Homo sapiens: one gene and its partners. The protein of the gene in region 1 purifies or fractionates together with the protein of each later gene. This does not show direct contact. Each region holds a gene or a part of one and is shown in the gene's direction. Other genes may lie near its edges. The genes, in order: PER2, HK1, WASHC4, CEP78, BMAL1, ZNF618 and PIP5K1A.

Region 1 (3,500 bases):
AGGTCAGTGGCTCTCCCGTTCAGATTTCACTAACCAATTTTTCCCCCAAATACTGGGGAACAGCAGAGACATGACAGCTTTTTAGTGTATTTATTTAACAAATAGAACTTTGTATTACCACTTATCATATTAGCATTTCATAAAAGAAAGGACATTTAATACCAGAAGAAAATAAGGAATGTGTCCTGCAATTAAGAGCTTGTAATTTAAGTTGATTCAATTTAGTTTTATGGAAAAACCTGATGTTTTGCCCTGATTTTTCTCACTTCACTGAGGATCAGGGAAAACCGCTCGGTGGACCAGGCAGGCCCTGGGCCAGCATTTGGAAACCCAGGACTGTTGAACGAAGAGGTGTCTTCAAATTTGGAGTTAAAATTTTAACTCCGAGTATTTGTTTTTCTGCATTAGCTGCCCCTGGACTAAGAAATACTTCCGGAATAGATTCACCTTGGAAAAAAACAGGAAAGAACAGAAAATTGAAGTCCAAGCGGGTCAAACCTCGAGACTCATCTGAGAGCACCGGATCTGGGGGGCCCGTGTCCGCCCGGCCCCCGCTGGTGGGCTTGAACGCCACAGCCTGGTCACCCTCAGACACGTCCCAGTCCAGCTGCCCAGCCGTGCCCTTTCCCGCCCCAGTGCCAGCAGCTTATTCACTGCCCGTGTTTCCAGCGCCAGGGACTGTGGCAGCACCCCCGGCACCTCCCCACGCCAGCTTCACAGTGCCTGCTGTGCCCGTGGACCTCCAGCACCAGTTTGCAGTCCAGCCCCCACCTTTCCCTGCCCCTTTGGCGCCTGTCATGGCATTCATGCTACCCAGTTATTCCTTCCCCTCGGGGACCCCAAACCTGCCCCAGGCCTTCTTCCCCAGCCAGCCTCAGTTTCCGAGCCACCCCACACTCACATCCGAGATGGCCTCTGCCTCACAGCCTGAGTTCCCCAGCCGGACCTCGATCCCCAGACAGCCATGTGCTTGTCCAGCCACCCGGGCCACCCCACCATCGGCCATGGGTAGGGCCTCCCCACCGCTCTTTCAGTCCCGCAGCAGCTCGCCCCTGCAGCTCAACCTGCTGCAGCTGGAGGAAGCCCCTGAGGGTGGCACTGGAGCCATGGGGACCACAGGGGCCACAGAGACAGCAGCTGTAGGGGCGGACTGCAAACCTGGCACTTCTCGGGACCAGCAGCCGAAGGCGCCTCTGACCGTAAGGATTTTCTGATGCTCTTTCCCCAAAGCAGGCAGCAAACAGCACACCTGGCAGGCCGGCCGCACATCCTCAGTTCAGACATGGGGGTTACACGATTGAGGTTTCCACCAAACCCTGTAGGTTTTGCCATGAATGTGTGTGCCAGAAATTCATGCTTCCCACTTAATCCTATCAGAGTAGATTATTCGAAGCCTTTTATTGTCGTGGAATCTGAATGAAGGAGGAGAGATTGTGATACAGACTCCAGAAAGCAGCATGTGACTTGACAGTATTTGTGGGCTTCGACTTTTTAAATGACGCTTCAGAGATAAAGCACAGTCAGGTTAAATACCAGAGCTAGGGCTCCTCAGGGTGTGGCGCCGGAGCCTGGCTCAGGTGGCCCCGGTGAAGGCGGAGAAGGAGGGGGACACAGCCCTAAAACCAGCGTGACCTCAGTTTCCATCCTCCGCAGGCGTAGGGACACTGTGTGAGATTCTTAACCAGTTAATGAAACGGTAGTTGTATTTGCAGTTAAACGCTTGTGTTTCTGAACGAGCTCAAGTGTGTGGGAACGCCAGCAGCAGTGCAGTCCGTAGGCCTCAGGCGATTCCCTGCCTTGGCCAGAGGACCTAGGGCTCCCGGGTGAGGAAGTGCAAGCATGTAGATCTGTGGAGCTTCTCCCAGTCCTCCTGCCACCTCCGGGCTCCTGCTTCTGGAGTCCTGGGCCTGCAGTCTGGGTTTCCAAGGAGAGGAGGGTCAGGGATGCTCCCCAGGCCAGGCCCCGCCCTCAATCCCAAGGCAGCCCCCACACCGGGTGCTGTGAGAGGCGTTTTCCCCATCCATGTCTGCTGCATGTGAGGAGGGGGCTGTGGCCAAGGAGCAGCCTGAGGCTTTCCCCCCTGGAGCCCAGGTATTGCCGTCTTCCATGTGACTCTCCGAAAATTAAATGTAACTAGACGGCATCCATAGAGCATCAGTGGAATTTGCACCGTAGGCCTGGTGGTGATGCGTGGTCTGCTCGTTAGGCCGTCCCTGGCCGTGAACCTTGCAGCCGCTCCACAGCACCCCTCCACCCTCACCCCACTCATGCCCCCCACCCCCACCCCGCTGCATATGCTGTGTCCTGACTGAGCCCCTGAACAGCAGTATCTGCTTCCTGTCCCTAAAGCGTGATGAACCCTCAGACACACAGAACAGTGACGCCCTTTCCACGTCAAGCGGCCTCCTAAACCTCCTGCTGAATGAGGACCTCTGCTCAGCCTCGGGCTCTGCTGCTTCGGAGTCTCTGGGCTCCGGCTCACTGGGCTGCGACGCCTCCCCGAGTGGGGCAGGTATGTTGGCCCTGGCGGGGTGTTAGGCACTTGGGAGGTTCCTGCAGGATGCACTGCTCCAGAGTCACAGGCCGGCCTCTGTGCTCAGAACAGGGATCACCGGCACTCCCCAAGCAGCTGTCAGAGCCCATGCAGACACCCACACAGACACACTCTCCCTGTTCAGCATGGCTGGCCCTAGCTAGTCAGAATTCCACATCCTCCCTGTTTGCTTCTGATTTCAGTGCCTACAGGCCTCACACCCTGGCTCCTTGTGGGACCAGCCCTCTGACTCCCCAGATAGTGGTTTGCCTTCCTGCTTTAGTTCCACTTGTGTGAACTGAGGGTATGGAGCACCTGCAAGCCTCTACCCGCTGGGATCTTTCACATGTGATCTGGAATCTCAGGCACCAGAAATGTACACACTCTCCACAAAATTGAAGCTCCCCTACTTCTCTGGAGTGAGCTTTCACCTCGCCTCCCTTCGCAGGCGTGCTGCACAGGTGAGGCTGGCTAGGGAGCGCTCCAGGCCAGCTGCCTCCCCTTGTGGGAAACTGCAGTGCCCTGTGGTCCACATGAGTGGAGATGGTGAGAGCTTGGGAGAGAAGGTCAAGGCTTCTAACACGCAGCTCCACCTGAGCTGCTCAGGGCTTCACAGGAAAGAATCGCCTGCATGGCACTAGCAGAGATCCTGTTTCCTAATTACCCAGAGCATTCAAGAAGTGGGAGAGAAGGGGAACATGCACCGGCATAGATACCCAATACCTAAGAAGGCACTGGGCTCTCTCAAATCATTCTGACTTTGAGGAAGCACATTATGCAAGGTTTAATTTCATATGTCAATGTTTTGACGCACCACGTTTTTTGTTTTTAAAGGCAGTAGTGACACAAGTCATACCAGCAAATATTTTGGAAGCATTGACTCCTCAGAGAATAATCACAAAGCAAAAATGAACACTGGTATGGAAGAAAGTGAGCATTTCATTAAGTGCGTCCTGCAGGATCCCAT
Region 2 (3,500 bases), on another chromosome or scaffold:
AGAGGGTGTACTGGCATTAGGCTGAGCTAAGCACAAAACACATATATTCCTTTCACTCTTCTAGTGCCTGTAGGAGGAAAGGGAGGCATATGTGTGCTTGTGAAGGATTCCATTCATCAGAATCCCAGACATCTGCCAGTTCTGCAGCTAGAGGCTGGGTTCTTTGACCTCTAAGTAACTTTAAACACGCATCTCATCTCGCCAGCTTCTTCCACTCGGTTTAGCCATTAGGAGCTTGGAGCAGGGTGAAGGATTGCATAGTGCTCTGTTTGTTTAGAAAGGGAAGATGGGTCCAGGAAGGTCAGAACTTGGCTTCTAAAGAAAGATTAGACTTCCTTTCCTCCAGGCTTGTCAGAATGGTGAGCAAATGCCAGTGGATTTTCTCTGGGCGAGATCCCCATAACGCTAAGTGATTTCCACTAGTAGGTGATCATGAAAAGGGTGTCATTTCTTTCCTCATTGCCTTGAGGCACATCAATAATTCAACTCCATAAAAATATATCCTGGGTTGAAACAGTTCAGGTGTCTGACTTCCCAGTTTGGAACCCCATTATCCAGACGGCATCTGCATAAATTGGTTAATGGGTGCTGTTGAAGAGAGTGTGATTTGTCCAATGGCCGAACTCAGGAGTCCTTGAGTACTTGACCCAGGAAGACAGGGGAGAGTAGGCTTAGCAATTAAAGGGTTGCCCAAGGTACATTCCTTAGAGCCTATGTGTTCCAGCTGCAAAAGCAAGCATTAAAAATAAATAAATAAATAAAAGGCCGATGTAGTGGCTCACACCTGTAATCTCAGCACTTTGGGAGGCTGAGGCGGGTGGATCACCTGAGGTCGGGAGTTCGAGACCAGCCTGACCAACATGGAGAAACCCCGTCTCTACTAAAAATACAAAATTAGCTGGGTGTGGTGGCGCATGCCTGTAATCCCAGCTACTTGGGAGGCTGAGGCCGGAGAATCACTTGAACCTGGAAGGCAGAGGTTGCGGTGAGCCGAGATCACGCCATTGCACTCCAGCCTAGGCAACGAGAGCGAAACTCCGTCTCAAAAAAAAAAAAAAATGCCCATTCATTATTGCTCAGGGGTGAGAGAGGTGATAGTTAGAAAATTGTGAAAAATCTGGCTGGGCACAGTGGCTCATGCCTGTAATCCCAGCACTTTGGGAGGCTGAGGCAGGTGAATCACGAAGTCAGGAGTTCAAGACCAGCCTGACCAATATGGTGAAATCCCGTCTCTACTAAAAATACAAAAATTAGCTGGACGTGGTAGCATGCACCTGAAGTCCCAGCTACTCGGGAGGCTGAGGCAGGAGAATTGCTTGAACCGGGGAGGCGGAGGTTGCATGAGCCAGGATCATGCCACTGCACTCCAGCCTGGGCAACAGAGCGAAACTCTGTCTCAAAAAAAAAAAAAAGAAAATTATGAAAAATCTGTGGGTTCTTGCAGTGGCAAAGAAAAAAAAGAAAAAATTATGAAAAGTCAGCCTGGGCAACAAAATTAAACCTCATCTTAAAAAAAAATTTTTTTTAGCCTGCTTTGGTGGCATGCACACACCTGTAGTCACAGCTACTCAGGAGGCTCATTGAGCCCAAAAGATTGATCCCAAAACAGTGAGCTGTGATGCTATGATTGTGTTACCGTACTCCAGGCTGGATGATAGAGCGAGACTCTGTCTCAAAAAAAAAAAAAAAAAAAGAAGAAAGAAAATTATGAGAAGTGTCTCATAACCTCTCAATTCTGATGTTGTACAAATATTCAGTGAGAGCTTCTTGGTGAATCTTGACTTTATAATCCCTGCCTTTCCTACCTTAGATACTCCTAGGGTTTCTCCCAAGAGAAGCCCCATCACTTTATCTGGTTGGATAGTTTGGGAATGTCATGAAGGAATAAACTGGCAGGCAGGGTGTCTGTGAGGTGCTTTCACATCTGGCCAAGCTGTGCCATGCTCCCACGCTCCTACTGTTCTCCGGAGAAGACATAGGCAGCTTTCCCCTTACAAGACTGATTTGGCATGACTGGGACTGTCTGTGTGTGTCTGCAGTCAGGGATTCCTGGCAGACAGATTTAGCCACTGGAATCACCTCTGAGCATGCCTGAGAAGGTCCAGGGAAGACATGGATAAAGACAGGGAGCTGTATACCTCTGCATCCAGGAATCAGTTGTGGTCAGACTGCTGGCACCTGCTTATGGATTTGTTTTTATTTTTTTATAGAGACAGGGTCTCACCATATTGCCCAGGCTGGTCTTGAACTCCTGGGCTCAGGCAGTCCTCCCGCCTTGGCCTCCCTAAGTATGCTTATTGATTTGAAAACCCTGAAGATCAAATCTGATCACAGGAGCTCAATCATTTCTTTAAAAAATGTTTGATTTTTTTATTATGTGCAGAGGACTGTGCTAGGCTGGGGTGACAACTATAAACAAGGCAGAAACGGTCCCAGTTCTCATGGAGCATAAAATATTTGCTGGCCGGGCGTGGTGGCTCATGCCTATAATCCCAGCACTTTGGGAGGCCAAGGCAGGCTGATCATTTGAGGTCAGGAGGTCGAGACCAGCCTGACCAACATGGTGAAACCCCGTCTCTACTAAAAATACAAAAAAGGTGCCAGATGTGGTGGCTCATGCCTGTAGTCCCAGCTTCTCGGGAGGCTGAGGCAGAAGAATCACTTGAACCTGGGAGGCGGAGGTTGCAGTGAGCTGACACTCCAGTCTGGGTGACAGAACGAGACTCCATCTAAACAAAAATAATAATTAAAAAAAAATGAAGTATTTGCTGTGTTATATGTGCAAAGCATATGGGCTATGAGGGCCCACAGCATGGTGTGGTCATACCTTGGGTGGGAAATCCCTAGGCTAGGAACTGCTTACAGCTAGGCTGCAGATGTTAGCTCCTTAAGTGCTTCAGGAAGCTGCTCCCATCCCCAGTTCTGGGGATGTGTTAGTCTGTTTGGAGTAGCAGGACAGGTGCCCACTGCCTTCTGGCCTAATAAACCTTAACAACGGGATCTTTTGCAACCACTTAATATACACTGGGTTGTGTTCATTGTATTTGATCTTAAAGAAAAATAGGTAAAAATTTTACAGTTTGATTGGTCTTGATTTCTGGAAATAACATTGACTTCTGGTAAACAGTACACATCAGGGATATTATACTTAGAAACTTTGTAAGGTGGAGTCAAAATTAATTGTCACAAAAATGTGTATTTTTTTTTTTTTTTTTTTTTTTTGAGATGGAGTCTTCGCTCTGTTGCCCAGGCTGGAGTGCAGTGGCACGATCTCAGCTCACTGCAAGCTCCGCCTCCTGGGTTCTCGCCATTCTCCTGCCTCAGCCTCCTGAGTAGCTGGGACTACAGGCGCCTGCCACCACTCCCGTCTAATTTTTTGTATTTTTAGGAGAGACGGGGTTTCACTGTATTAGCCAGGATGGTCTCGATCTCCTGATCTTGTGATCCGCCTGCCTCGACCTCCCAAAGTGCTGGGATTACAGGTGTGAGCCACCACACCC
Region 3 (3,500 bases), on another chromosome or scaffold:
TGTGCAGAATTCTGACAATGTCAGGCATTGGAGTGTTTGTTACCTTTGTTTCATTTTGATAGTATTTCTTTTGTGACTTTTCTATACTATGTTGGGTTAAGTGATGTAGGGAATGCGAACTGTGTAAGATGGAACTCTTCCTTCTGTAGTAGATGTCATTCCTTTCATATTGTTTTGGGATTCTTCAGTTTTGGTGTGACTGATTACTACTTTACATTGTAGAGTCCAAACACAATGTGACTGTTGTTTTTTATACTGGCATCGAGCTGTCTTCCCAATTTATTTAGATGATGTATATGAAAATGCTGTTGATGCAGCCAGATTACATGTAAGTAAAGAACAATATAAAGAATAATTCTATCATTTTAAAAGTCACTGTGTAAACCGTTTTAGTTTAAAATAGATCATTTGATTTAATAAACTTTTAAAATTGACTGTTTTGTAAACTGCATATTCATAAAGTGTTTATAGTCTGTAGTTAAATTTTATGTTACTGTTAACGAAGTTAATTTATTTAATTTCTTCCTTCATGTTCCTAATCATTTTCATTTCACTTAATTTTAGTTTATGTCATAGTAATCTGACATTTACTCATCAGCAAATTACAATGCAAAAGAAAAAATATTTTTAAGAAATATTCATATTTTTCTTTATGGAAATAAGTGTGTTTAAATGCACAAGATAGGAAAGGACTAGCGAATGTGATTTTTTTTGGGTATATTTAGTTAAAGTATATGCTTTAGGTTCTTTTTCTTTAGGAAAGTTAAGACAGTTGTGGAAAATCATTTTTCCTTCAGATCGAGGTTTTGTCTTTCAAGATAATTAACTTTTGCAGTATTGTTTAGATTAGAGACCTGGTTTTTCTAAATTCATGTACATTTTAATTTTCTTCTTAGTACATGTTCAGTGCTTTGCGCGACTGTGTACCTGCTATGATGCATGCAAGGCATTTAGAGTCCTATGAGATACTTCTGGATTGCTATGACAAGGAAATTATGGAAATTTTAAATGAGGTAACATCATATTTGAGATTGAAAAGCTTAAAACATGTTTGGAATGTAGTGTTTGGAAAAAAAATGTTCGATTGAAGCAGACTCACTGAGTTAAAATTATTTATAAATTGCTGGGTAGAACAAAGAACTATTTTTAGTTACAATATCACTGTTGTGCTAATTGGTCTGTAATTCATTTATTTAGAAATCACACTAGGAATTAGGAGATTTTAAATTTACTTTTGTAAATAGATATTTTAATTTAAAGTTGTTTATTAGAAGAATGCAAATGTGAAATGGTTTTGAATGTTGAAAGCTGCTAATGGTCCAGTTAAAGCAACTTAACCATTAATATTTTACTGAATTTTATTTGCAGAGCTCCTGAGAGAAGGAAATTATATATTTAAAAGATTTAGTGTGTAACAAAAGTAATTTGAATCCAATATGTATGCCCCTCCTTTTGTTAAGGAAATATGTATTATAAACACTGATATCTTTAAAATTAAATTTCCATTTAGTGATATTTTTATTTGGAGGGAGGAATTAAAAATGAGGAAATTTCACAATATAATCCTACCTGGGTTTGATGAAATTGTGAAAAACTTTTTATAATTTCTTGTATTACGTATTCTTATTTAGGAAATAAAATACATGCCTGGATAGTAATTTAGAACTCCTTGGTAGACCAGAAAAGATGATTAATTTTATTACCTTTAGCACAATGAATTTTGTGATTTTTTTTTTAACAGTTATTACAAGGAAGCTTTTTTCTTTTCTCTCTTGCCTGTTCTCATGCCCTTTCCTCCTTTGTTGCTGGTTTCCATAAATTTTATGCTTTAAGTTGCATATTCATGTTCCTTATGATGGTACCATCAATCATTAGTTTTAGATTTTCTTTTCAAGAGTATTAACCTTAAGGTATTGGTGAAAATAAAGACTTAGAATTTATGTAACTGCTTCTGACCAAAAAACTATTGGTTTAAAATGGAGCATAGACATGTAGGGAAACAATACAATTGCAATATCATTTTGAAAAATTAAAGTATCAAATCTTTTGTGAATAGCATTTGCTGGACAAATTATGCAAAGAAATAGAGAAAGATCTGCGACTTTCTGTGCATACTCATTTAAAGCTGGATGACCGAAACCCTTTCAAAGTTGGCATGAAAGACCTGGCTCTTTTTTTCTCTCTGAATCCAATTCGGTTTTTCAATCGTTTCATTGACATTCGGGGTGAGTGTTTTGCTTTCCTTCTTAGAGTCATATTCTCTTTTTTTTTTTTTTTTACCCTACTGTTAAACAAAACTTTGAGGGTATATTTAAATTTTGTGTTGTTATTCTTTAATTACATTTTGTTTCTTTTCTCATTTTTATTAATACCTTATTTTAAAGGAACAAATCTGATGTTCAAGGACAAGTTGTTGTTTTTTCCTTTTAGGTTTCATTTCTTTTCCTTTTCTACTGTTTCACAAGTTGAATTTTTTTTTTTTGGTAGCTTACGTAACTCACTACCTAGACAAGACTTTCTACAATCTAACAACTGTAGCCCTTCATGACTGGGCCACTTATAGTGAGATGAGAAACTTAGCTACTCAGCGTTATGGACTGGTTATGACAGAGGCACATCTTCCCAGTCAGACTTTGGAACAGGTATAGTATAAAATGTTTTTTTTAGCATACTGTGACTGTTGGCTGTAACAGTACTTTTTAAGGAAGTCTTTTTTCTTTTTGCTTTAGTTAGTATGTGCTTATTTTTTAAGAAATTATTTGCCATATAAAATCTTATACTTGACAACAGTAAAAAATTAGGTGCTGCTAAATTGCTTTATAAAGGAATTTACCACCGGGGTCCTGCTTATATTCAGCCTTCTGTTGAGCATTCGAGATATACATATATATTTATATTTATATACAGCTTTTCAGAAACACTAGAATAGTGAAGTGACTTCTGTAGAATTTTAAGAAGTTCAAAGTCACATTTAAGGATTTTAAGCCTGGTTATAGTATATAAAATTTAGTATCTTAGGAAAAATGGTTAAATTTACATGATTACAAATGTGTTTTTTGTTCTTAAAATGAGGAGTATAGGAAAACATTTAGCTTTGCTAATTCAATTAGTTAATGTACAGTATGGCATTGTCTCATGAATGTAATAATTTATGTTATCAGATAATTTGCGTGGAGTTCTCTTTAAGATGATCCAGATAATATTTACCAAAAAACATTTATTCAGTTCTAAAATTTGAGGATTCTAGTTTTCCCTTTATCTTGCTGCATGTAGGGATTATTTCTAGGATCAGTTTGTATATCCTTTCATTTATTTTGTATATCCTTTCATTTATTCATTTATATATCTGATATTTATTGAGAACATGCTAGGCACTGAACTATGTTTAGGAATACAAAGATAAATATAAATAGTCCCAGCTCATGTAATATCCTCTGGGAGAAAAAATGTGTAAACAAATTTTTAGATTAGAATATGATAAAAGTTATAATAAAAACTTA
Region 4 (3,500 bases), on another chromosome or scaffold:
ATCAGCTAATGGCATAAATTTTACATTCTCCTGAATACATAAATTTGGTATAATCTAGTTCTACTGATATTTTCTTTTTTTTTTTAAAGAGTCTTTAACTTTTGTAGAACACATTATCTTTAGTCATAAGTAGCCTTTTTTTACTGATAAGAATGAGTGACAGTGGAATAAGTTAAGCCAAATCTAATGTGAAAGTGACCTTTTCTTGTAAGTAACTTTGAATTTTGAAACAGTAAAACCATGAAGACTACTACAGAGAAAAAAATTAATGTTTTTATGTTTATAATCTGCCAGTTTCCCAGAAAAAGGTTTGTGGTGACTTTAGTTCATACCCTGTACATTAAGATCACCAAACAATTAACACCAGATAATCTTTTATTTGGATGCTACTTTAAATTTTTGAAGGATATCACTTGACTTAATATCACTGAACTGTACACTTAAAAATGGCTAAGATATAAAACAATTTAACATAAAATATAAAACATTAGAAATTCTATAATTTTAGTAGCTAGTGGTATATAATTGGACATCATTGAATGAGAATAAAAAACAAAAATCTTTTTTCTTAGCATGATTAAAGAAATTGGAAATGTGACTGAAGTTTACAAGCTCACTGAGCTATTTTAAGAGTAACTTTATTTCTTGGGCTTTTTTTGTATTTGCCTCAGTAATTTGGAGACACAGAGGTAAGCCAAATCAGTGTCTGGCTTTATATTTAATAGTTAGGTGTCAGTGAGTATAGGGGTTATATAATTTATGTAAATTATGTCACATTCATATTGCAATTACGTGTGCAGACAGAAGATAGGAAACTTTATAATTTTTTTCATCTAACAAGATAAGTAAATTAGTTTGGTTTTAATTAAAATTTATATTTGCGGCCGGGCACGGTGGCTCACGCCTGTAATCCCAGCACTTTGGGAGGCCGAGGCGGGTGGATTGCCTGAGCTCAGGAGTTGGAGACCAGCCTGGGCAACACAGTAAAACCCTGTCTCTACTAAAATACAAAAAATTAGCCGGGCGTGGCGGCGTGCACCTGTAATCCAAGCTCCTCGAAAGGCTAAGGCAGAAGAATTGCTTGGACCTGGGAGGCGGAGGTTGCAGTGAGCTAAGATTGTGCCACTGCACTCCAGCCTGGGCGACAGAGCGAGACTCTTGTCTCCAAAGAAAAAAAAAATTTATATTTGCATTACTTTCTACACATACTACAAACAATACACAGTAACTTTTTTTTAGGATAATTAAAAACAGCACACAATGAACTGAGCTCCTATATATTTATAAGACGTGTATAAATTTGTCCAGAGAAATTGCACAGCACAATGTGGTAATTATCAATAAGTTACACCACGGGAAATATTTGTCCTGTATTACCAAATACATGTTCTTGTAGATGCTGTCCTAAAGCTGCTAAAGTAGATCTTACGTAGTAAAATAGATTGGAAGGATAAATATAACCGTTTTAATAAAGTTATATTATTTGTTCTCAGTGATATCAGAAACAATTATATATTTAAGTGTGAATTTTATTAATATTAATAGGTAGGTCTAGCTTTTACTACCAAATATTTCTTTAAAAAAACTTGACTCTTTAAACTGAAATGTAGGATAAGACTTTATACTTCGTTCTATTATCCAGTAGGTTTCATTTGTTTTCTTTGTGTTCTGTAAAAGCAAATGAACACTGAAGGTGGACAGACTTATAGGCGGCAACATTGGCTCACCTACTACCCAGCTACCTTCAGTCTTACAACTTGGATAGTTTTTACATGATAAAATTAATCCAGCTACCTTTAGTCTTACAACTTGAATACCTTTTACATGATAAAATTAATCTCAAATTGAAATTTTTTTCCAATTCAGAAGGTTCTGTTTGGTAGGAGTCATGGGTGTATCTATGTTCTGTCCTTGAGATTCAGGAATGCCAAAAATATTCTGAGATTTAATAACTTAAAATTTCTGCATAATGCATAATGAAATGTATCACGTATAATCTTTCATTCTTTGGGTTACATGTTTTATTTACCTTTGCGTGCTCTGCATGTCTCATATATTCAACTTATATTTTAGTTAAAGTGATAACTTGTTACTCTAGACAACTTATATTTTTATATATTTATTACTTATATTTAAGTATATTAAAAATATATTTATTCTTATATTTATTACTGGCCTGTGTAAAAAGGTATTTACAAATTGATCCTGATTTAATGGACTTGGTGTCATTGTCAGGTGCCCATTTGTATTCTTTTAAGAGTATGCACATGTGCCTATTCATCTGTAGACCTTTAGTGCATCTTGATTCTTTCTTTTTAACACTTCTCAAGTAGGATTGGCTACAAAGAAACCTGTAAGTAGTGGCAGAAAACACTCCCTTGGTAAAGAATATTATGCGCCCGCACCTCTTCCACCTGGTGTGTCTGGTTTCTTGCCGTGGCGTACTGCAGAACGTGCAAAAAGACACAGGTAGGGTATTTTTATTTCCTATCTTTTAGGATAAAAATGGGATTCAAAATTCTTTATTTTGGAGCTTCTATTATGTGAGAGTTCTCTGCTTATGTCTGTAGGGTAAAAATGACTCATGTGGCTTCTGCCTCATGAATCCTTTAAGGAAGAAAAACAAAAAATAATCCTAAGTAGGGTTTCAAGTTATTAAGTGTCACAGCAAGCTGTATCCCTGTGGGAGTCCAGAGGAAACTGAAATTATCTCCAATTGTGCAGGTGAGAAAAGGTTTCATTTAAAGTATGTGCAGTTAAACCAAGTCCTATAGGGCAGAAATAGGAATTTGGATATTTAAGACTGGGGAAAGGGCATTGTAAAGCATAGGAAATTGTTCAATGCAAAATGATAGGAAGTGTTGATTAGACTTAATCTAACTCAGCCAACTGGCCTAACTCATTTTAGTGAATCAAACCAGATATAACTAGTTTTAGCCAGTTACCTAGGTGATAGCTATTCATAGTAATTTTTGTCAGAAAAGTCTTTTAAAAATGTTGTACTATAATTTTATGCTTAATAAATGAATTAGATTACTATAAATTATTTTCGAATGACTGACTTTTAGTATTCAAGAAATTGGAGATTAACAATTGCTTAAGAAAACAAAGAGGATTGAATTTAAATAGGACTGGAAATAGGTGCTATGTAAAATATCTGTTCAATTGCTCAGATTAAATTGAATATGTATAATCTTTGTTAGGCAACTGATGACTATACTTATTTCACAACTGGTAATGTGAATTATTATTGCATAAACTATAGTGCTGAGGCCCCAGTCTTTACACTTCCATTTAATAACTTCACAGTTTCATATCTTCTTGAGATACTTACTAATTTCAAGTCCCATCTTGGTCACAAGGAGTTGTGAATTAGAGAACAATTAATATCACCAGTTAAAGAAGTTAGATTAGAAATCTGAACCATCCTAAACATAAGAAGTACCTGCATCTTCAGAGTCTTATCCCAAAGCCGTTCTGCTAAATTGTTCAATTTTCTC
Region 5 (3,500 bases), on another chromosome or scaffold:
TAGATGACAACCGAGGTGGGTTTGAAAAGATGAATTAATGTTTGCCAGGTAATGAAGGGAGGAACAAAGAGGAAACAATCTGTGCACAGGTGCAGGGGTGTGGAGCCACATGGCTTGCTTGGTGCTATTGGACAAAACGTGCACGGAGGGGAAGGGCTGAACCATGAAGACCATTTGTTCTGTGGGGACACAGTGAAGAGCTCTGAGTTGGGTGGGGCAGGCTCGGATTGGCATTCTAGGGGAGATCGCAGAGCTGGCAATGTGGGAGGTAGATGGGATGGGAGGAAGCCCAGAAGGAGCCCTGGGCAGTGGCCATTCCTCGGCACACTTGCTCGTGTGATGGCCATGGGTGTGTTTTCCCTCGGCTTCTGTACTGACACCTAGCCAGTGTTTGGTAAGGAGGTGTGCTCCTCAGAATCACCTGGGAGCTTTTCAACATAGTCATGCTCCACCCCCAGAGATTCTAATTTGGTTTTTCCAGACAGCACAGTCCAATAAAAACATAATGCAAACCACAAACATGAGCCACATATATAATTTCATATTTTCTGGTAGCCAGACTTTAAAAAATAAAAATAAATGTAAAATTAACTCCAAAATATTTCAGCATGTAATAATTATAAACAACTAATAAGTTCGTTCACATTCTTTTATTTTTCTATACTGTCTTTGAAATCCTGTGTGTATTTAACACTTACAGCACATTTCAATTCAGAAAAGCCACATTTCAAGTGCTCAGTACCTGCATGCAGCTAGTGGCTAATGCATTGGACAGCACAGATCTAGAATGGGGTCCAGGAATCTGTAGGTTGATCATGCATCCAGGGTATTCTGGCCTACAAGCCAGGTTGAGAACTTAAGGCAGTCCGGCTCCCACCTTGCCTTCCCAATATCCATATCCTACCCATCCTTCAGTGCCAGCCCAAGTTCCTTCTCCTCTGGGAAGCACAGGTTGTCTTTGCCATTTATTTGGCACTAATCATACATCACCCTGTCCTATTATTAATCTTTTCTTGGTGCACCTCCATTTGCCCTTTGTTAGCCATAAGCGTCTATTGGGCAAGAACCCCATACTATATTTCTTTTCATCCCCAGAGTACCTAATCCATTTATTTAGTAGCACACTCTGTGATTTATAAACATTTCCAGACTGACAACACACCTGTCCATGCTGCATCTGTTAAAGCCTAAACTTGGGAGATATTTATCTCATGTCATCATTATAAAACAGTGAGGCAGGCAAGAAAAGGCTTTGCTCAAGGTCACACTCCCCCTCCTGACAGACAACACTGCTCTCAGTTTATCACATTTTGTGTATTGATTTGCAGCTGGACTTCCAGTTAAAACAGATATAACCCCTGGGCCATCTCGATTATGTTCTGGAGCACGACGTTCTTTCTTCTGTAGGATGAAGTGTAACAGGCCTTCAGTAAAGGTTGAAGACAAGGACTTCCCCTCTACCTGCTCAAAGAAAAAAGGTAACAATTTAACAGTCCATTAAAACCCTGTGACAGGTGAAGCATGCTTTCTGCAGCGGAGCTCTCAGCTGGGCGTTGGTTCCATGGTTTCTGGCTGGCCAGAGTGGCAGGTCCCAGGACTGCAGACAGGACCCTGCAGTCCTCCCTATGTGTAGGGCAGTTGGGAGCAGAGGAGAGAGCTGAAAAGCCTGATGGCAGAGATTTGTGGAGAGGCCTCCTCTGTTTAAATTGTGTTTCTTTTAACATGATTGAGGAAGAATACTCTCAGCCACAATCCTAACTGCCTTATGAACAGCCACCAGTCCACCAAAATTACTCTGAGCTCACCAGTGACCTTGATGTTGTTAAATGCGATGAACATTTTTCCTTTGTCTTCCTTCTTGAAGTGTTCTCTTCTCCTGGATTCCATGAAACCACATTCTTCTTCCTCCTCCCCGACCCCCTGCTGCTACAGGCTCTCTTGCTGGCCCCTTTGCTGGCTGCCCCTCTCTGTCCTGGGCTGCATCTCTGTCTGCAGTCTCTCTCTGTTGGTCATGTCATCTACTCCCTCAGCTTTAAATGCCAACAACTTCCACATTCATATTTCCAGCCTAGACTTGTCTTTTGAACTCCAGATTCATAAATATACTGCTTACTAAATCAACCTGCTTTGGATATCTCAGGGGAGTCTCCAACAGGATACGTGCCGAAGTAATCACCTGAGCCTCTCCTCCAGCATAAATGGCACTGCCATTCAGCTGGCTGCTCATGCTAGAAGCCGGGGAGGTGCCCTCACTTCTGCTTCACCACCCCACTCTTCAATCCCGTTAGTTATGAAGTCCTGCCACAATGAGTCCCATCTGCAAAAGTTCTCTGAAATGTTTGTCCCTTTCCATGCTGCCTACTTTCACTCAGCTCCAGGCTGCCCCCAACTCTCACCAGGTCTCATAAAGTGTAGACCCACATGCTCCCCACCCCCAACACAGCAGCCAGGATGATCTTTTTATCAGTCCCCTTTTAAAAACCCTTCAGTGTTCCCTATTGTTCTTGAAGAAAAGCTCAAAATATTTAACGTGACCATGCAGCCCCCGACCCTGCCACTAAGCACATGTGAGCCATGTTGACTTCCTTTGATGCCTCAAGCCCCTTCTGGGCAATGCTTCTGCACATGCTGTCGCTTCCTGGTTGGAATTTCTTCCCTCTCCCCATGAACTCCCTTCACATGGCTCTCTCCAACCTCAGACTGCCTTATGTCTTATAGCACCCTACTGGTTTGCTTTCTAGTGCTTTCTTATACTTGCTGTTATATAGTTATTTGTGCGATTATTTGTTTAAAGTCTGTCTCCCCCACTAGGCTGTAAACTCCACAAGGGCATGTCTGATTTGTTTTTCACTCTATTCCAGTAACCAGCACAGACTCCACGCTTGGCAGACACTCCATAGTGGTTTGCTTGTTGGTGAAGTCTATAGGTGCTCCACATTTAATGTGTCCCAAATCGAACTATCTTTTTTCTCTCTCTCTCTTCTAGTCTGTTTTCTTTCTTCTCTGAGTCAGTGAATGACACCAGCAACCACCCAATCCAGAAAAGTTAGAGTCATCTTCATTTGTTTCTTTCCCTTAAGCCTGATATTCACAGCAAATCCCAACAGTTTGATCTCAGAAATTTCTCCTGCTTTCTTTCTCTGCTCCCTCTCATCTTCACTGCACTGCCATAGTTCAGTCCTCCTAATCTCTTGCTGTATTATAGCCACTGGCCCCTGAATCAGCCTTCCTACTTCTGTTTTCTACTGTCTTCCAGTTCATACGTCACTCTGCTCCTACAGCATCCAAACCACAATTTGATTTTGCTGTTTCTGCACTTAAATACCTGTAGATGCTCTCCATTTCCTGCCTTAAAAAGACAGACCAACATTGGTTAGAAAGTAATCCAAGGCCCTTTTAATCTTCCTCCAACCTGCCTTTCCAATTTGCCCCTCACTCCCAGTACCTCCAATTTCACTTCAACCACACAGAGCTCTTGGCCAGTTCCTATATAGGCTGTG
Region 6 (3,500 bases), on another chromosome or scaffold:
TTTTCTTATATCCGAGCTTCAGTTTCCATGTCTTACAGTGAGGGGTTTGATAATTTGGTACTTTGTGTCACACATGGCTTTGGTTTTGTTTTGTTCATTTCATAAAATTTCTAGTAAATATACTTAAAAAATGCAAACTTTGCGAAAGTGAGAGAGTATGAGGAGTTTTTGGCCACTTGGGGGGTGTAGCTGGTACTCCCTCCCTTCCCTCCATATCAGCTAGAACTCTGTGGTTGTGTGCAGGGAGTAGGTGTGGGGTTCCCAGCCAGGCTTGGGATCCAGTGCTTCCCATTTCCAGAGAGTTTGCTCCATACCACACACTGTGCTCAGCTCTTCCTGGATTAGCTCTTGTTAGTCTTACCAGCAATAGTGTAATGTCCATATGATTACCTTAGTTTTTCTAAATGATGAAAATGAGGCTTTGCAAGCATAGATAGTTGTCTAAGGAGGAGCCAGGATTTTAACCCAGGCCTGAGTCCCAATGGCCACATTCTGCTGTTACCCACCACACTCTAGTTCTCATCTCGTTCCTCAACAGGCCTCTTACCCTTCCAGGTAACACACTGTCCCCTTTGTGCCCACAGCTGACAATGAAAACAACATTGCCTCCAACCAGTCCCGATCGCCACCTGCTGTTGTAGAAGAGAAGTGGAAACCTCAGGCCCAGAGGAACAGTGCCAATAACAGTAGGTCTCCCCAAGCAGGGCTGGACCTGAGGGTCCCCTTATGCTCCAGTTGTTCCTCTCTGCCCCCCATTCCCACCATTTGTGCTTCCTGTGATGTTGTAAGATGATGCATGATAGTTTCCAAAGCACTTTTACACCTAAGACCTTATTTGCAGGAGTTCTTAACTCAGGGGATGGGCAGAAGGAGGCCCAGGGAGAGGAGGTGACTTTTTTTGTGGTCAGAAAGCACCAATTTGTGGCAGAATCAGAACTAGAACCCACCTCTCCACAATTTCTGCTGGTTGCTCTTTCCTGACATGATGATCCCATGTATCTTATTTCCTGAAGATTCCCATATTAGAGGAGATTCCTGTATTGAGGAAGAAATTAGACTAGTTGGCTTCAAAGATCTAGGGGAATGACATAGACCGCAATTATGTTGCATACATACCACTACATTCTATTCCCATGCTCATGGCAGGCCTTACTAATCAATCATAGAACTTTATCCCTGTGAGACCATCATATATTAAAGGCAGCCAGCACCACCCATGTGTGTGCAAGAGGAAATATATTTGCCATTCCCAATACTAGATGTTTAGAGTGTTAGGCTACTGCCACTCCAAGCAGCCTTGAATGCCAGAATTAATCCCATCTGTCTTTGTGTCCTCTGCCAGCCACTACCAGTGGTTTAACACCCAACAGCATGATCCCCGAAAAGGAGCGGCAGAACATCGCAGAGCGGCTGTTGAGGGTCATGTGTGCCGACCTGGGTGCACTGAGCGTGGTCAGCGGGAAGGAGTTCCTGAAGTTGGCCCAGACCTTAGTAGACAGTGGTGCCCGCTATGGGGCCTTCTCGGTCACTGAAATCCTGGGCAACTTCAACACGCTGGCGCTGAAGCACCTGCCACGCATGTACAACCAGGTGAAGGTGAAAGTGACCTGTGCCTTGGGCAGCAATGCCTGCCTAGGCATCGGTGTCACCTGCCACTCCCAGAGTGTTGGCCCTGACTCCTGCTACATCCTCACAGCCTACCAGGCCGAGGGCAACCACATCAAGAGCTATGTGCTTGGTGTGAAGGGTGCGGACATTCGCGACAGCGGTGACCTTGTGCACCACTGGGTGCAGAACGTGCTGTCGGAGTTCGTGATGTCGGAGATCAGGACAGTGTACGTGACGGATTGCCGGGTGAGCACGTCCGCCTTCTCCAAGGCCGGCATGTGCCTTCGCTGCTCAGCCTGTGCCTTGAACTCGGTGGTGCAGAGCGTGCTGAGCAAGCGGACACTGCAGGCCCGCAGCATGCACGAGGTCATCGAGCTGCTCAACGTGTGCGAGGACCTGGCGGGCTCCACGGGCCTGGCCAAGGAGACCTTCGGGTCGCTGGAGGAGACGTCTCCACCACCCTGCTGGAACTCGGTGACGGACTCACTGTTGCTGGTGCATGAGCGCTATGAGCAGATCTGCGAGTTCTACAGCCGGGCCAAGAAGATGAACCTCATCCAGAGCCTCAACAAGCACCTGCTCAGCAACCTGGCGGCCATCCTGACGCCGGTGAAGCAGGCAGTCATCGAGCTGAGCAACGAGAGCCAGCCCACCCTGCAGCTGGTGCTGCCCACCTACGTCAGGCTGGAGAAGCTGTTCACGGCCAAGGCCAACGACGCAGGCACTGTCAGCAAGCTCTGCCACCTCTTCCTGGAGGCGCTCAAGGAGAACTTCAAGGTGCACCCGGCCCACAAGGTGGCCATGATCCTGGACCCGCAGCAGAAGCTGCGGCCTGTGCCACCCTACCAGCACGAGGAGATCATCGGCAAGGTCTGTGAGCTCATCAACGAGGTGAAGGAGTCCTGGGCCGAGGAGGCCGACTTCGAGCCCGCTGCCAAGAAGCCCCGCTCTGCTGCCGTCGAGAACCCCGCAGCTCAGGAAGATGATCGGCTAGGCAAAAATGAAGTGTACGATTACCTGCAGGAGCCCCTCTTCCAGGCTACCCCTGATCTCTTCCAGTACTGGTCGTGCGTTACCCAAAAGCACACAAAACTCGCCAAGCTCGCCTTCTGGCTCCTGGCGGTTCCGGCCGTGGGCGCCAGAAGCGGGTGTGTAAATATGTGTGAACAAGCGCTTCTAATCAAACGGAGGCGGCTGCTCAGTCCAGAAGATATGAATAAACTCATGTTTCTGAAATCCAACATGCTTTAAGACTTGACTTCGGGGGAAAAAAAAAGAAAAAGAGAAGATAACATTAGAAAAAAACCACACAACACTGTCACAAAGAAAAGGAATTTAAGTTCTAAACACTGTGGACCTCATTATAAATGCCCCCTGGAAACTTAAGTGCTTTTTTTATATGTGTGTGTGTGCGTGTATGTACACAGCCACACGTGTGTGCACGTGTCTGAACACGTGCTGTGGTTGTGGGGGTGTGGGGGGGTCTCTGTGCTCATCTCCATGGCCAGAGAAACTTTGCACACACGCACACACACACACACACACACACACACACACACGACCCTGGTGCGTGTACATACGCCTGTGCTTGGACGGGTGTGCATTGAACTGGGCGTGTCAGGAAAGCTGAGCGATTGGGAAAGAGGGAGATGTTTCACCTCCTTTTCTCAGTAAGGGGGCTTTAGAAGACTCCGCTTTCAGGTGTGCAGATTGGCAGAAAGCTGATGTTGTGAAATGTTCAGGCAGCTGAGATCTGAAGTGACTTGACGCTCTCTGTCCTTCACCCCGGTCCTCCTTTTCCCTCTTTGACCCTCTTCCAGCCCTCCTACCCTCCTGATCCCATTGTGCACCCCCCCACACACTCGGCTGCTCTGCTGTGGACTCTCCACACT
Region 7 (3,500 bases), on another chromosome or scaffold:
GGTTTCTCCATGTTGGTCAGGCTGGTCTTGAACTCCTGACCTCAGGTAATCTGCCTGTCTCGGCCTCCCAAAGTGCTGGGATTACAGGCATGAGCCACAGCACCCGGCCATTTAGCTCTTTTTATATGTTGAACATTAAGATAAAAAGATGAGTTTCTATTATAACTGGGGAGGCAGGTACTTAAAAAAAAAAAGAAACTAATAATTTATTTTCCTTTGACCTATTTGTACATGAAAAAAACTAGTTGTAGGCTGGGCATGGTGGCTCATGCCTGTAATCCCAGCACTTTGGGAGGCCGAGGCAGGTGGATAACGAGGTCAGGAGATCGAGATCATCCTGGCTAACACGGTGAAACCCCATCTCTACTAAAAAAAAAATACAAAAAATTAGTCGGGTGTGGTGGCTTGCGCCTGTAGTCCCAGCTACTCAGGAGGCTGAGGCAGGAGAATGGTGTCAACCAGGGAGGCGGAGCTTGCAGTGAGCCAAGATCACGCCACTGCACTCCAGCCTGGGCGACAGAGCGAGACTCCGTCTCAAGAAAAAAAAAACAAAAAACTAGTTGTAATTTATTGCCCATTGAGGACCAAGTAGAAATATAAGTAATGCCTGGCCGAGGTTGGGGATGAGGCAAATGGAGCAAAGCTATCTAATCAAAGTTTCTGCAGTGATTGAAATGTGCTGTATCTGTGCTATCCAATATGGTAGCTAGTAGCCACACTTGAACTGTAAGTAGTAAGACTGAGAAAATGAAGTTTTAAATTTGAGTTAACTTAAATTTAAATAGCCATGTGTACCTAGTGGCTACTGTTATCAGACAGCAAAGATCTAGATGATGCGATACTTTCCCACGGGCTTGGAATCCTGGATTGTAAGAGTGGGGCTCTTGTATTTGTGTTTTGACCAAGTTTGATAATTCTAAGTCTGAATACTGCTCTCAGAAATAATTTGAGTCTTTCATGCTTTCTTCTTCAGTTAGGAGCTCTTTTACCACACTGTTGCCCTTTTTTTTGAGACAGTCTGGCTGTGTTACCCAGGCTGGAATGCAGTGGTGTGATCTTGGCTCACTGCAGCCTCCGCCTCCCAGCTTCAAGCAATTCTCCTGTCTCAGCCTTCTGAGTAGCTGGGACTACAGGTGCACACCACCTCATCCAGCTAATTTTTGTGTTTTTAGTAGAGACGGTTTCACCACATTGGCCAGGCTGGTCTCGAACTCTTGGCCTAAAGTGGTCTGCCCACCTCAGTCTCCCAAAGTGCTTGGATTAGAGGCGTGAGCCTCCGCCCGCGCCCACCCCACCCTGTTGGCCTTGAGACACACTAGTCAGGCCCTTCCTTAGAGGACTGAAGTTTCTGCCGCCAGGCAGTCAGATCAGAATATTGGTTAATTTTAGGGCTGGGCATGGTGGCTCATGCCCGTAATCCCAGAGCTTTGGGAGTTCTGAGGTTAGGAGCTTGAGACCAGCCTGACCAACATAGTGAAACCCCATCTGTACTAAAAATATAAAGAATAAGCAAGGTGTCGTGGTGCATGCCTGTAATCTCAGCTACTCGGGAGGCTGAGGCATGAGAATCGCTTGAACCGGGGAGGCAAAGTTTGCAGTGAGCCGAGATCATGCTGCTGTACTCCATTCCAGCCTGGGTGACAGAGTGAGACTTAGTCTCAAAAAAAAAAAAAAAAAAAAGGAATATTGGTTAATTTTAGTTACATTCGATATCAGATGAAGGAAATGTTTAGAGGGCTCCAGATACACTCTGGGGGCAGAAACCTTAGGAGTGAGAACTAAGAACGTTGTGTCAATACAATGTATCTTCCAAATACAAATATGGAACTCTTGTTTAGGCAGGCCAACAGGAGGGAGCACCTTGCCTAGCTGAGGCTGGCTCAGAGAGTCCCAGCTTTGCTACTCTGTATCCTCACTGTCCTTCCAATCTTTACTAAGCTTAATTGCAGAGTACAGCATAGGGATGGGGAAACTGGATTGTCCCAGTTTTATCTGAACTATTGCTCAGACTAAAGGATGTTTGTTTTAAAGTGTTCCTTCTAGCTTCCCCTTTCTGAATTTTTATTGTTATGATCCTACTTATACTAGGAATTTTCTTCTCATTTCTCTTGTTTCTCAGACAACCTCATCAGCCTTGAAAGGTGCCATCCAGTTAGGCATTACCCACACTGTGGGGAGCCTGAGTACCAAACCAGAGCGTGATGTCCTCATGCAAGATTTCTACGTGGTTGAGAGTATCTTCTTTCCCAGGTACAGAGTTTAATGTTCAGGAGCATGTCCTGGAAATGTGGCCTTTTCAAATCAGCCCAGGGCAGTTTTAGGGGTTCAGGTCGGACAATTTAGACATGTGTCCATTTCTTAACCTGGTTACAATCAGGGCGATGTGGGACTAGAGAGTTCGGAGAGCAGATACTGTCCTCTAGATGCTTCCATTAGCCTCTGTCCTATGGATTGACCCGTAAAAAACAACCTAATGCATTGGATAGGAGGCAGTGTGATTTCTTCTTCTTCTTATGTCTTGCTGTCCATGCTGTGCCATTGTCTCACTAACTCATCTAAGAAGGGCTGTGATTATCTTAGGAGGAATGTATTCCCCCACTCCCCCCACCATGAGGTGACTCTGAGTGTCTTCGCAAGGTAGATTCTCTGGATGATAGGGACTGGCAAGTTATGGCTACCTCTGTTTAACCCCACAGTGAAGGGAGCAACCTGACCCCTGCTCATCACTACAATGACTTTCGTTTCAAGACCTATGCACCTGTTGCCTTCCGCTACTTCCGGGAGCTATTTGGTATCCGGCCCGATGATTACTTGGTAAGCATCTGGATATCAGGACACTGTGACTCCAGTATCAGAGGGATATTCCCAAAGGAAGGCCCCTTTTCTCCACAGTCTCGCTCTGGTTTTTATTTAGAAAAGAATTGCATCTGTAGTTGATTTTTGTGTTGGGCAAGGCCCTGATGTGTCTAAATCTCTTAGTTCTTCTCTGTTTGCCCCAGTATTCCCTCTGCAGTGAGCCGCTGATTGAACTCTGTAGCTCTGGAGCTAGTGGTTCCCTATTCTATGTGTCCAGCGACGATGAGTTCATTATTAAGACAGTCCAACATAAAGAGGCGGAATTTCTGCAGAAGCTGCTTCCAGGATACTACATGGTAAGGGAGAGAGAAGCACTGTCCACCTGTGCTGCTCACTTCTGGGCAAGGCTGGGGAGGCTGTCTTCAGCAGGGTAAAACAGTGTCAGCACTTCTATCTTAAGAGTGTAGTTCAGGCCAGGCACGGTGGCTCATGCCTGTAATCCCAGGACTTTGGGAGGCCGAGGCAAGAGGATCACAAGATCAGGAGATCAAGACCATCCTGGCCAACATGGTGAAACCTCGTCTTTACTAAAAATACAAAAAATTAGCCAGGCGTGGTAGCGGGCGCCTGTAGTCCCAGCTACTCAGGAGGCTGAGACAGGAGAATGGCGTGAATCTGGGAGGCGAAGTTTGCAGTGAGCCGAG

Evidence for each region.
Region 2: the proteins of PER2 (region 1) and HK1 purify together in Homo sapiens (affinity purification with western blotting, with the first as the bait; one study listed by BioGRID). This does not show direct contact.
Region 3: the proteins of PER2 (region 1) and WASHC4 purify together in Homo sapiens (affinity purification with mass spectrometry; one large-scale study listed by BioGRID and IntAct). This does not show direct contact.
Region 4: the proteins of PER2 (region 1) and CEP78 purify together in Homo sapiens (affinity purification with mass spectrometry; one large-scale study listed by BioGRID and IntAct). This does not show direct contact.
Region 5: the proteins of PER2 (region 1) and BMAL1 purify together in Homo sapiens (affinity purification with western blotting, with the first as the bait; one study listed by BioGRID). This does not show direct contact.
Region 6: the proteins of PER2 (region 1) and ZNF618 purify together in Homo sapiens (affinity purification with mass spectrometry; one large-scale study listed by BioGRID and IntAct). This does not show direct contact.
Region 7: the proteins of PER2 (region 1) and PIP5K1A purify together in Homo sapiens (affinity purification with mass spectrometry; one large-scale study listed by BioGRID and IntAct). This does not show direct contact.

What each region holds. Positions count from the first base shown.
Region 1 is NC_000002.12:238,250,611-238,254,110, reverse strand, and holds part of PER2 (period circadian protein homolog 2), read left to right. Parts: intron 1-408; coding exon 409-1,199; intron 1,200-2,349; coding exon 2,350-2,512; intron 2,513-3,367; coding exon 3,368-3,500. UniProt on the Homo sapiens protein: Transcriptional repressor which forms a core component of the circadian clock.
Region 2 is NC_000010.11:69,321,847-69,325,346, forward strand, and holds part of HK1 (hexokinase-1), read left to right. Parts: intron 1-3,500. UniProt on the Homo sapiens protein: Catalyzes the phosphorylation of various hexoses, such as D-glucose, D-glucosamine, D-fructose, D-mannose and 2-deoxy-D-glucose, to hexose 6-phosphate (D-glucose 6-phosphate, D-glucosamine 6-phosphate, D-fructose 6-phosphate, D-mannose 6-phosphate and 2-deoxy-D-glucose 6-phosphate, respectively).
Region 3 is NC_000012.12:105,142,231-105,145,730, forward strand, and holds part of WASHC4 (WASH complex subunit 4), read left to right. Parts: intron 1-222; coding exon 223-328; intron 329-896; coding exon 897-1,013; intron 1,014-2,056; coding exon 2,057-2,225; intron 2,226-2,487; coding exon 2,488-2,642; intron 2,643-3,500. UniProt on the Homo sapiens protein: Acts as a component of the WASH core complex that functions as a nucleation-promoting factor (NPF) at the surface of endosomes, where it recruits and activates the Arp2/3 complex to induce actin polymerization, playing a key role in the fission of tubules that serve as transport intermediates during endosome sorting.
Region 4 is NC_000009.12:78,249,575-78,253,074, forward strand, and holds part of CEP78 (centrosomal protein of 78 kDa), read left to right. Parts: intron 1-671; coding exon of another isoform or gene 672-739; exon of another isoform or gene 740-931; intron 932-2,330; coding exon of another isoform or gene 2,331-2,333; coding exon 2,334-2,469; intron 2,470-3,500. UniProt on the Homo sapiens protein: Centriole wall protein that localizes to mature centrioles and regulates centriole and cilia biogenesis. Involved in centrosome duplication: required for efficient PLK4 centrosomal localization and PLK4-induced overduplication of centrioles.
Region 5 is NC_000011.10:13,368,290-13,371,789, forward strand, and holds part of BMAL1 (basic helix-loop-helix ARNT-like protein 1), read left to right. Parts: intron 1-1,328; coding exon 1,329-1,478; intron 1,479-3,500. UniProt on the Homo sapiens protein: Transcriptional activator which forms a core component of the circadian clock.
Region 6 is NC_000009.12:114,047,309-114,050,808, forward strand, and holds part of ZNF618 (zinc finger protein 618), read left to right. Parts: intron 1-584; coding exon 585-686; intron 687-1,342; coding exon 1,343-2,859; 3' UTR 2,860-3,500. UniProt on the Homo sapiens protein: Regulates UHRF2 function as a specific 5-hydroxymethylcytosine (5hmC) reader by regulating its chromatin localization.
Region 7 is NC_000001.11:151,229,552-151,233,051, forward strand, and holds part of PIP5K1A (phosphatidylinositol 4-phosphate 5-kinase type-1 alpha), read left to right. Parts: intron 1-2,119; coding exon 2,120-2,250; intron 2,251-2,696; coding exon 2,697-2,814; intron 2,815-2,999; coding exon 3,000-3,152; intron 3,153-3,500. UniProt on the Homo sapiens protein: Catalyzes the phosphorylation of phosphatidylinositol 4-phosphate (PtdIns(4)P/PI4P) to form phosphatidylinositol 4,5-bisphosphate (PtdIns(4,5)P2/PIP2), a lipid second messenger that regulates several cellular processes such as signal transduction, vesicle trafficking, actin cytoskeleton dynamics, cell adhesion, and cell motility.